Linked DNA regions of Homo sapiens. The protein of the gene in region 1 interacts with the protein of each later gene in a pairwise test. Each region holds a gene or a part of one and is shown in the gene's direction. Other genes may lie near its edges.

Evidence for each region.
Region 2: the proteins of TRIM36 (region 1) and EIF4A2 interact in binary tests that used the Homo sapiens proteins (3 or more experiments, as listed by UniProt).
Region 3: the proteins of TRIM36 (region 1) and TRAF3IP3 interact in binary tests that used the Homo sapiens proteins (3 or more experiments, as listed by UniProt).

Annotation. Positions count from the first base shown.
Region 1 is NC_000005.10:115,135,200-115,138,955, reverse strand, and holds part of TRIM36 (E3 ubiquitin-protein ligase TRIM36), read left to right. Parts: intron 1-1,339; coding exon 1,340-1,593; intron 1,594-1,831; coding exon 1,832-1,956; intron 1,957-3,756. UniProt on the Homo sapiens protein: E3 ubiquitin-protein ligase which mediates ubiquitination and subsequent proteasomal degradation of target proteins. Involved in chromosome segregation and cell cycle regulation. May play a role in the acrosome reaction and fertilization.
Region 2 is NC_000003.12:186,786,440-186,790,195, forward strand, and holds the end of EIF4A2 (eukaryotic initiation factor 4A-II), read left to right. Parts: exon of another isoform or gene 1-8; intron 9-62; coding exon 63-206; intron 207-232; exon of another isoform or gene 233-413; intron 414-687; coding exon 688-825; intron 826-859; exon of another isoform or gene 860-994; intron 995-1,055; coding exon 1,056-1,145; intron 1,146-1,173; exon of another isoform or gene 1,174-1,310; intron 1,311-1,363; coding exon 1,364-1,443; intron 1,444-2,685; coding exon 2,686-2,830; 3' UTR 2,831-3,458; downstream 3,459-3,756. Other genes in the region: RFC4 (replication factor C subunit 4), read right to left, coding at 3,530-3,625, 3,703-3,756. UniProt on the Homo sapiens protein: ATP-dependent RNA helicase which is a subunit of the eIF4F complex involved in cap recognition and is required for mRNA binding to ribosome.
Region 3 is NC_000001.11:209,780,000-209,782,913, forward strand, and holds the end of TRAF3IP3 (TRAF3-interacting JNK-activating modulator), read left to right. Parts: exon of another isoform or gene 1-470; coding exon 471-607; exon of another isoform or gene 608-1,345; coding exon 1,346-1,459; exon of another isoform or gene 1,460-2,056; coding exon 2,057-2,149; 3' UTR 2,150-2,311; downstream 2,312-2,914. Other genes in the region: UPF0739 protein C1orf74, read right to left, coding at 2,826-2,914. UniProt on the Homo sapiens protein: Adapter protein that plays essential roles in both innate and adaptive immunity. Plays a crucial role in the regulation of thymocyte development.

The DNA of each region.
Region 1 (3,756 bases):
TAGTCCCAGCTACTCGGGAGGCTGAGGCAGGAGAATGGCGTGAACCTTGGAGGCGGAGCTTGCAGTGAGCCGAGATCGCGCCACTGCACTACAGCCTGGGCGACAGAGCGAGACTCTGTCTCAAAAAAAAAGAATGTTCTTGAAGACTTTTTTTCTGTTGGCTGCTGTCTGTGAGTCTGTTATAATAAGTGCTTAGGAGTGTTTGCCAGTCTTCTCAAAATCATGAGCTCTGATTTTATAGGAATTCAGAATGTTTAACAAACACTAGGGTCATTTTATGACAGTTTGTATGAATGTTTATTTACAGTATGTGACACTGTGGTATATACTTTATGTAAATAACCTTTTAAAATCTCTTCACAAAAACCTAAATGGTTTTTCTTATCCCCTATTTTCAGAAGAGAAAAAACAGAAAGAGAAGTGAAATGATTAGCATATGGTCACACAGCTAAGTCAGGATTTAATTATAATTATATTAAAGTGAAGAGGATACTTTTATTTTTATATCTTAGTAAAGAATGTCATATTTTAGAGTTTTGTGGCTAAAAACTTTTTTAGGCCAGGCGCGGTGGCTCATGCTTGTAATCCCAACACTTTGGGAGGCCGAGGCGGGTTGATCATGATGTCAGGAGATCAAGACCATCCTAGCTAACACTGCGAAACCCCATCTCTACTAAAAATATTGAAAAAAAGCTGGGCGTGGTGGCATGTGCCTGTAGTCCCAGCTACTTGGGAGGCTGAGGCAGGAGAATCACCTGAACCCAGAAGGCGGAGGTTACAGTGAGCCAAGATCGCACCACTGCACTCCAGTCTGTGCGACAGAGCGAGACTCTGTCTCAAAAAAACAAAAACAACTTTTTAAAAAGTTGGAGTAGCGTAGAAAGGGTGAAAACATTTCTGAATTTGAAATGAATTCAAAGTTCTGGAATTGTGTTTTCCTGTTTTTGTTTAAATCAGTTCATTTCTCCTTCATATTCCTTTATATACCACTGAAAGATTATTCTCTTATTTAATTGACTAAATTGTTTATTGCCAGACTTTGGAGATGAAAAGCTTAAGGAAGTACAATATTATAAAATTACAAAGTAAATCTGAATAAAAGTTGTCAGTTGTTCTTTGCTAAGTGTATTTGATGCCAAAATATTGTTCTGAAAATTTCAGAGTTAGATAAAACTTTTTTCTTTATAATATCTAGGTTGGTTTTATCAAATTTTGATAATGCTGTCATCACATAGATGAAATGTAATTATGTAGAACTTTGTGGAAAGCCATTTGGGTTTAGCAGAAGAGGCTATTCTTTGTTTTATCTTAGTGTAATGGAGATACTGTTTTTTCTTAGTGTAATGGAGAGAGGGCTAAAGAAGAAGCAATTACACATTTTGAAAAGCTCTTTGAAGTTCTGGAAGAGAGGAAATCATCTGTTTTGAAAGCAATTGACTCCTCTAAGAAACTAAGATTAGACAAATTTCAGACTCAAATGGAAGAGTACCAGGGACTTCTAGAGAACAATGGACTTGTGGGATATGCTCAAGAAGTGCTAAAGGAGACAGATCAGTCTTGCTTTGTGCAGACAGCAAAGCAGCTCCACCTCAGGTATTCTCTTTTACTTCTAACTTTAGAACCTATTGAGCAATGTTATTAAATGCTGCTGTGTATTCTCACTTTAGCTCTGATTGGTCCATAATGCTGTGTTAATGTGAGGTACATCTTGCCTCATTCTTAACTTTAATTTTGAGTGAAGTGTGGGTTTTATTTTGTTAATCATGTTGCAGATATTTAGTCTGATTTGACTTCTTAAAGAAACATTTTTATATAAAATATCTGTCTGCAGAATACAGAAAGCCACAGAATCTTTGAAGAGCTTTAGACCTGCAGCTCAGACTTCTTTTGAAGACTATGTTGTTAATACCTCTAAACAAACAGAACTTCTTGGAGAATTATCCTTTTTCTCTAGTGGTAAGTCTTAATGAAGGCAAAAACCTCATTCTTTTTGTCTGAATTTGTATTGTGTGGAAGAAAACACAAGTTCTCTTAAATTTGACATTATAAAGCAGCATCTCACTTGCCCAGGACTATCACAGCATCCTGAAATCATATCCTATTTATGTTTTTAAAACTATATTTTTATGCACAAAAACTATGTTCCATTAGTTTGTGTGTTTTTAAACATTGCATAAATAGCATTATGTTGTATGTATTTTTGTAAATTGCTTTTTAGAAAATTAACATAAATACTTGTAAATATATGAAATTTTGGTGTAAAGCAATATTTTAACTGTTTACAGTATTTCATAAGTAAATCATTTTCCTACTAAGAGACTTTTTTTTTCCATTTTTTTCCTCTTTTATGAGCAACGCTGTGTCGCACATCCTTGTCAGAGTTTTTTGGGCAAGTGTATGTGAGTTTCTTGGACAGAAGCCTAGGAATGGAATCTGCAGGCTGTTTACATTGCTGTATTAGTTTGCTTGAGCTGCAGTGACAAAAGTACCATAGACTGAGTGACTCAAAACAGATTCATTTTGTTACATTTCTGGAGCCTACAAGTCAGAGATCAAGGTGTTGGCAGGGTTGGTTTCTTCTGAACCTCTCTTCTTGGTTGATAAATGATAAATGGCTATCTTCTCCTTGTGTCTTCACATGGTCCTCTGTGTGTGTGTGAGAGAGATCTAATCTCCTCTTTTTATAAGGACACCAGTCATATTGGAGTAGGGCCCATTCTAATGACCTGATTTTAATTTAATTTCCTCTTTAAAGACCCTATTTTAAAATACAGTCACATTCTGAGGTACGTACTGGGGGTTAGGACTTCAACATGTGAATTTCCAGTGGCGAGGGGTGGGGTCTGGGGGACTGGGGAAGGATGCAATTCAGTCCATAACACTTGCTTACGTTTGTATTTTGCTACTCCCTAGCAGGGAGGTCTTCCTTGCCTTTTTTTCTTCTTCTCACCTCATTCCTCTCCCTAAGATTTCTCTTCTAGTGATGGTGAACACTACAAAGATATATTTATAGTATAATTACTTTATAGGTGCAGATTTGTAGATTTGTACATTAATACAAGGAAATTTGTCTTGTTAAAAGTTTAAAACTCTGAAGGATTACTGTGACCTCCTTTTCAAATCTATACCTGAATCTGATACTTACTTACTATGACCGTCTTATTTTTTCAAATAGATATTTGTCATCACTTAAAATGCTGATTGTATTTCATACACTATACTGTGTTTCCAAAATGTATGCTTGAATAGTATATATACAAATAGATATTTGCTTACTTGTGAGTCCTAGGTCCTCCCTCCCTGTGGATCCCAAAATGGTTGCTGGAAAGGTAAGGTTGAGGGTGGGTTATCCTGGGTTATACCACTGTATAGCAAGGAACCAATAAAACAGGTGGATGAGAATGGGATAGTAGTCACCTAGCTTCTGGCTGATGGATCTTCCCCTCATTTTTTGCTACATGCATTTTTTTTTTTTTAGTAAGCTATGTTTCAAAAAAAGAAAGAAAAAGAGTATGGGGTAGGCGACATACTATTTGTTAATCTGTAACTTTTTTTTTAAATTTTAAAATGTATTTTGAATAACTTTCCAGATCTCATTATGGCTGCATAACATTCAGTTGTATAAATGCAGCATACACAGAAATGCTTATACATTGGGGAATAAGGAGAGGAAAGAGACTTCTGCTTCTTATTCATGTCCTTCTCTGTGATTTGTCATAAATGTGTGTGTGTAGCTTTTATAGCGTATTGTTCTTA
Region 2 (3,756 bases), on another chromosome or scaffold:
AGACATTTTCCTTTGGGTATTAATGTGTAAGTTGTGCTACAACATAATTTTCTCTTTTTAAGGTTGTGTTGCTTTCTGCCACAATGCCAACTGATGTGTTGGAAGTGACCAAAAAATTCATGAGAGATCCAATTCGAATTCTGGTGAAAAAGGAAGAATTGACCCTTGAAGGAATCAAACAGTTTTATATTAATGTTGAGAGAGAGGTAACTGTCTGATTGTTAGACATTATTTTACCTTCTTGTATAAGCACTGTGCTAAAATTGCAGACACTAGGACCATGTCTTGGTTTTTGCAATAATGCTAGCAGAGTACACACAAGAAGAAAAGTAACAGCACTAGATTGTAAAGACTGGGGTGGACCTCTTTCTTAATGTCCAATGTCCTTTGTCTTAAGATTTGGTGCAATATCTCATTAGACCTAACAGAATGAAGTTAATTTTTATAATTTCTACGTTTTGAGACTGGGTTATGAGACTGGCTAAGACTGGCCAATTTTGGTATTTTGGGTAGAGACAGTTTCACTTTCTTGAAACCCTGGTCTGGTTGGAACTCTGGGCTCTAAGTGCTAGGATCCCAAAGGGCTGGGATTACAGGCATTAGCACTGTGGCTGGCCCAGAATGAATTTTTAACTGAAGAGTTGGAAAAACTAAATGACTGTTAACTTTAACTTCTAAACATTACAGGAATGGAAGTTGGATACACTTTGTGACTTGTACGAGACACTGACCATTACACAGGCTGTTATTTTTCTCAATACGAGGCGCAAGGTGGACTGGCTGACTGAGAAGATGCATGCCAGAGACTTCACAGTTTCTGCTCTGGTAAGAGGTGTTCTAAAATGTCTGGATTTCCACTAAAGCAGGATTCAGACTACAATATAGCTGCTAAGTGCTGTGTTGTCGTTCCCCCTGCTTAAAATAAAGTTGTTTCTTAACTATACCTGTCTGCTATTCTCCTGTAGCAGCCAGGGACGCTTGGTCTCATACATGTTGATTAAAATTAAATACCGACCTGACTGGTGATTCTTGAATTAAGGTTTATTAATTTGCAGCATGGTGACATGGACCAGAAGGAGAGAGATGTTATCATGAGGGAATTCCGGTCAGGGTCAAGTCGTGTTCTGATCACTACTGACTTGTTGGTAAGTCTCTTAATGCTTTTTAAAAATCTACCAAAAGTTAGCTTTTTGGGGGGCAGGTTTTTAAGTAACCTTTGCCAACTTGGGCTATTTGGAAGAGTAAAAGACCACACTCCACAGTGGGCTATACCACTTAGTATAGTTCGCTACTATTTTGTGGCCTACATGACAGGTGTCAAGTTTTTTTGAATCAATTTTTAAAACATGCCATTGTGTTTCAGGCTCGCGGGATTGATGTGCAACAAGTGTCTTTGGTTATAAATTATGATCTACCTACCAATCGTGAAAACTATATTCACAGGTGAGAAGCCAGCATCTTGGCTGTATTGAAAAAAATTCATACGTTTTTCTACTGTGATTTGTATGAAAGGTAACATCAAATCAAGGAATAGATTCAGTAAAGTCAGTAGTGTTCAGTAAGATGATGTAATTAAATTTGTACTAGGGAAGGTTGATGAGAACAAAGTGGGAAAACTTGTAAACATTGCCCAGATTGTGGACATAGGGTTTTTTTCCACAATTGTTGGTCTTACCTTATGCTTGAGCTTTTAGTGATGTTCTTGTGTCCATGTGTTTTTCTTGGTGATTTTTTCTATAGTTGGGATTTTCTTGGTGTCGCCTGGTAGCAATTTGAGTGAACCCTGGTTTAGTTATAGTGGCTTTATCCCTAAATAAATTGAATTGTACTTTGTTATATGATGTAAAAAAAGACTTTTTAAAAAATACAGGAGTCGATAGCAGCAGTTGGTGACGAGATGGCACTCAGAAACGGCGTTGACGTAATTTAGGACGTGGAATCATAAGCGAAACAGCACACTGTTTGAATAAAGAGCGAGTCGGTATTTATATTTGTTTTTCTTTTGTCATGATTATTTGATTTTTAAGTTGCTCCAGCTAAGGCATTTTTTTGTATTAGTATTTCTATTAGGGAACCTTTCTTATTAGGTGGTTTGTATTGTCTGGTTTCTAACATGCAGGTAGCTGTTTGGCAGTTAAACACGTTTAGAGTAATTTGAGTTACAACGTGTGAAACTGAGCAAAAAAGCAGTGATAAGTTTGGGTTACCATACCAAATATTTGTTTTCCCACTGGAAAAAAGTAAGTTTTAGAAAATAGTTAACCTTTGCAGCATTTGTTTACAGTTTACAGTTCCAGAAGTGCGTCGAAATGGATTACATAACTGCTCTTTTATTCCTGGTGTTCACATCTGTCCCAGGCTGACACCTGCTCTTGGCTGGCCCACTTTGGTATGGGCTTTAATTTCACTACCCCAAACACGATACTGTCATCTGCTTTATAATAATGCTCAAGATGCCTGATAAAAATCTCATTTTGCAGCCAGACAAGCCTTGAATCCTTTTGGCACTAACTGCAAAGGAAGATTTTTTTCTCTAGATATGCATTAGCAGCTAGTGCTCCAGTTAGAAGCACGAACTATAACCTTGATAAGTAAACAGCAGCTGGTGGTTAACAAGTGGATCGTCATGTTCAGTAGTTTATACATTATGTGAGAAGTAACGTTCTGATTCTTTTTCTTACACAGAATTGGCAGAGGGGGTCGATTTGGGAGGAAAGGTGTGGCTATAAACTTTGTTACTGAAGAAGACAAGAGGATTCTTCGTGACATTGAGACTTTCTACAATACTACAGTGGAGGAGATGCCCATGAATGTGGCTGACCTTATTTAATTCCTGGGATGAGAGTTTTGGATGCAGTGCTCGCTGTTGCTGAATAGGCGATCACAACGTGCATTGTGCTTCTTTCTTTGGGAATATTTGAATCTTGTCTCAATGCTCATAACGGATCAGAAATACAGATTTTGATAGCAAAGCGACGTTAGTCGTGAGCTCTTGTGAGGAAAGTCATTGGCTTTATCCTCTTTAGAGTTAGACTGTTGGGGTGGGTATAAAAGATGGGGTCTGTAAAATCTTTCTTTCTTAGAAATTTATTTCCTAGTTCTGTAGAAATGGTTGTATTAGATGTTCTCTATCATTTAATAATATACTTGTGGACTAAAAGATATAAGTGCTGTATAAAATCAGCCAATTATGTTAAACTAGCATATCTGCCTTTATTGTGTTTGTCATTAGCCTGAGTAGAAAGGCCTTTAAAATTTTTTTAGAAAGCATTTGAATGCATTTTGTTTGGTATTGTATTTATTCAATAAAGTATTTAATTAGTGCTAAGTGTGAACTGGACCCTGTTGCTAAGCCCCAGCAAGCAATCCTAGGTAGGGTTTAATCCCCAGTAAAATTGCCATATTGCACATGTCTTAATGAAGTTTGAATGTTAAATAAATTGTATATTCACTTTAAAGGTGCTTTTGGTCATTTTATTTTTATTACAACTTCATTATTTACAAAACCCCCCATCCAGATATATTCACGTTAACAATTCTGAGATAACTGCTGCATCACAGTTGCACAAAGGCTGATGAGTTGCAAATGTTCATCAGCACCATCTGCTAGGCATTTGTCAACTTCCTACGAGAAAAATTTAAGAAATTAGCATCCTTCAGGTAGTTAAATGTTCCATTGACATGTGCAAAGTACCTACTTACGGCAAGTTTTTCTGTGATAATAGACTTCTGTTTATCAGATAAGTTATTTTCTAC
Region 3 (2,914 bases), on another chromosome or scaffold:
TTCACCAAGACTAAGACTGCAGGGTGGCTAAAAAACCATCTTTAACCATATGAAGATAAATTTTAGGATATGACTGCCATCTTCACAACTTTCAAATGAGGACATCAGGGAAAAGGGATTGTATTAAAGCATTTACCAAACTTATTTGACAAACTAGGAAGAATGTGACATACAACCAATGAAATTCAATTAAGAAGTATTCACTAAAACTATCTAGCACTAGATAAGACTGGGGATACAAAGAAAAGATCCCAATCTTGCCCTCAAGGAGCTCAGATTCCAGCTGTCTGTCCAAGCTTAGCAGGGGCCTACTGGAAGTTAACCTTTATGTCAGAGAATGCCATCAGTCTAGCCAAGAGCACGCCCTCCCAAGTTCCCTCCCCTCTCCCCACTCCTAGTGGTTTCACCCTCAGGGCCCTTCCTCAGAGGTGTGGGCCTCACTGTCACCAAGAATCTGGCTGCTTTTTTAGATCAGGCTTTGCCCGTGTGGAGTCCAAAGTCCTTCCCTAACGAAGTGGAGCCTGAGGGTACAGGGAAGGAGAAAGACTGGGATCTCAGAGACCAGCTGCAAAAGAAGACTTTGCAGCTCCAGGCCAAGGAAAAGGAGGTGAGAGGGTGACCTGAGATAGTGAGGGCTCATTTGCGAAATAGCAGAGAAACCTGGGAGGCAGTCAAAAAGCAGGGATTTCAAAGTTTAAGTTGTGAGTGGATAACCACAGACATTCATTTGCCTACATAAAGTGTCTGTGCTTTTGGGCTGACTTGTCAATCTTTTCCCTTCCTTATTTATACCAACTCCTATTCAAGGTTTTATTAAATGATTACCTTTTAGAAAGTCGACCAAAACTCAAACACATTTAATAAAAATATTAACTTCTCAATATGTCGTCCCACATTGAGTATCTTAAGTCTTTATATGTCTCTTAAAGAGTAAAACTCTTCCTTTGTACATACTCACAAACATACACATCCCCAGAAGTATTGATATGCAACTAGCTCCTGGGAAAGAAACTTGTACTAAGGTCACTTCTAGGTCGTTTGTTCTATAAGAACTTCATTTTTCGGTGTCTCTCATTTGCAAAGCACTTGCACGTAAAGTCATATAAAAGAACTTAAATGTATAAAATGTAATACTATAATATGCATTACTGTCAATCATTTAAATGAACACATTCCAGACAATGTAAGACAGTCAAAAGACAAACTCAAATCCCTGAGAATGGCTGGGAAGGGAAGATGGTGGTAAAAATTCCAAATGAGTGAAACTTACAAAGGGCAGTCTCCCCTGCCTGGGCTCTGTCCTAGACAGAAGTGACAGTGATGACTTTGGTGATGTTCTCCCCAGTGCAGAGAACTGCATTCAGAATTAGACAACCTCAGTGACGAGTATCTCTCCTGCCTGCGTAAGCTGCAGCACTGTCGAGAAGAGCTGAACCAGAGCCAGCAGCTGCCTCCCAGAGTAAGAGGGTCTCTCCTTCCCATAAAGCCCTGGATGATGGGACGATTCCTTCTTTAACCAAGTTTTGCACATAAAATATATCAGCCCACGCCAACAACTGGCCATCCTGTCCCACTGTGCTTGGTTTATACTATACTGACATTATGGCAACCATTGAAAAAAACACTGGCTCGTCCATCAAAGCCCAACTTTCACAGAACTCTCAATGCCAGAAGGAAAGACTTACTCTTAGCTAAAGTATGAAAGGGTGTTCTTTTAGCCGATGATAAGCATGGTGGCAAGAACAGAAGGACACAAAAGTACTGGGGAATACAAAGAAAGAATATAATTTTGCTGGGTTATTTTCCACCCTTCATTATTCATATCAGTATTTATATATCTGGTCCCTGATGGATACGGCTCCCTGGGCCAGAGAACATTGGTTAAGTGGTTTTATCCCAAGACAGGTGACAAAATGGGAGACAGAGTAAAAAGCTTTTTCTCCACCACCAACCCAGCGTTTTCCACTGGGCTAGAGTAGGAAGAAGAAAGATTTTTGCCTATATCTTTTCCAATCCACTCATGGCCACTTTCTTCTGTCTCCCTGTCCCCCTACAGAGGCAATGTGGGCGATGGCTCCCAGTGCTGATGGTGGTGATTGCTGCAGCACTGGCAGTGTTCCTGGCCAATAAAGACAACCTGATGATCTGAATAATTTGTGACAACTGCCTTGGGTGAAAATCAGAAGCAAGCAACTCAGCGAAAAACTCAGAAGGTTTGGGTACATTACAGCTTGGGTTTTCCAACTGACTTAGGATTTCTGACTTTTTATTAATTTCTTAACCTACTGTAAATAAACTTCACCTGACCAGATTGTTCCTCAGAACTCTCAGTTTATTCCTGAATGGTGTATTACATTAACAAGTATCACATATTTAAGCATACTGGTGGTCTACTCTCCTCAAATTCAGTTGGAGGCATATAAACATGCAGAAAAGCCCCCAGCCCTACTTTCCTAGCATGCAGCACCCACATAGAGCAGGTATATTTACAAGGTTACCATGCAAGAGTGTTTGGCTTGTCTTCCATCACCCTGCTTTTCCTCTATCATCTCCTTCCTTCTATCTTTTATCCAGTGAAAATGAAAACATCTCCACTAAGAGGACTTCCTAGTATAGAAATGGCAAGTATGTACTATCTACCAATTTGCTACTAGCACCACCATTACCTATTTACATGCCCTTTGCATTTGTGGCCAACTGATCTACAGCATTGTGCCTTAGTGTATTCAAGACACTTGGAATTGGCAGTTGAGATGATTATTTGCCATCCCCAACCTAGAGATGATCATTTACTGAGTACCTTCTATATGGGAGGAGAGTTAAAGTCAGAGGGCCACAGCCGGCAGTGTGACTATCTCAGAGGAGATGCTGAGATCAGCAAAGTCATTCTGAGTCCTAAATCGGGTTCTGAGGT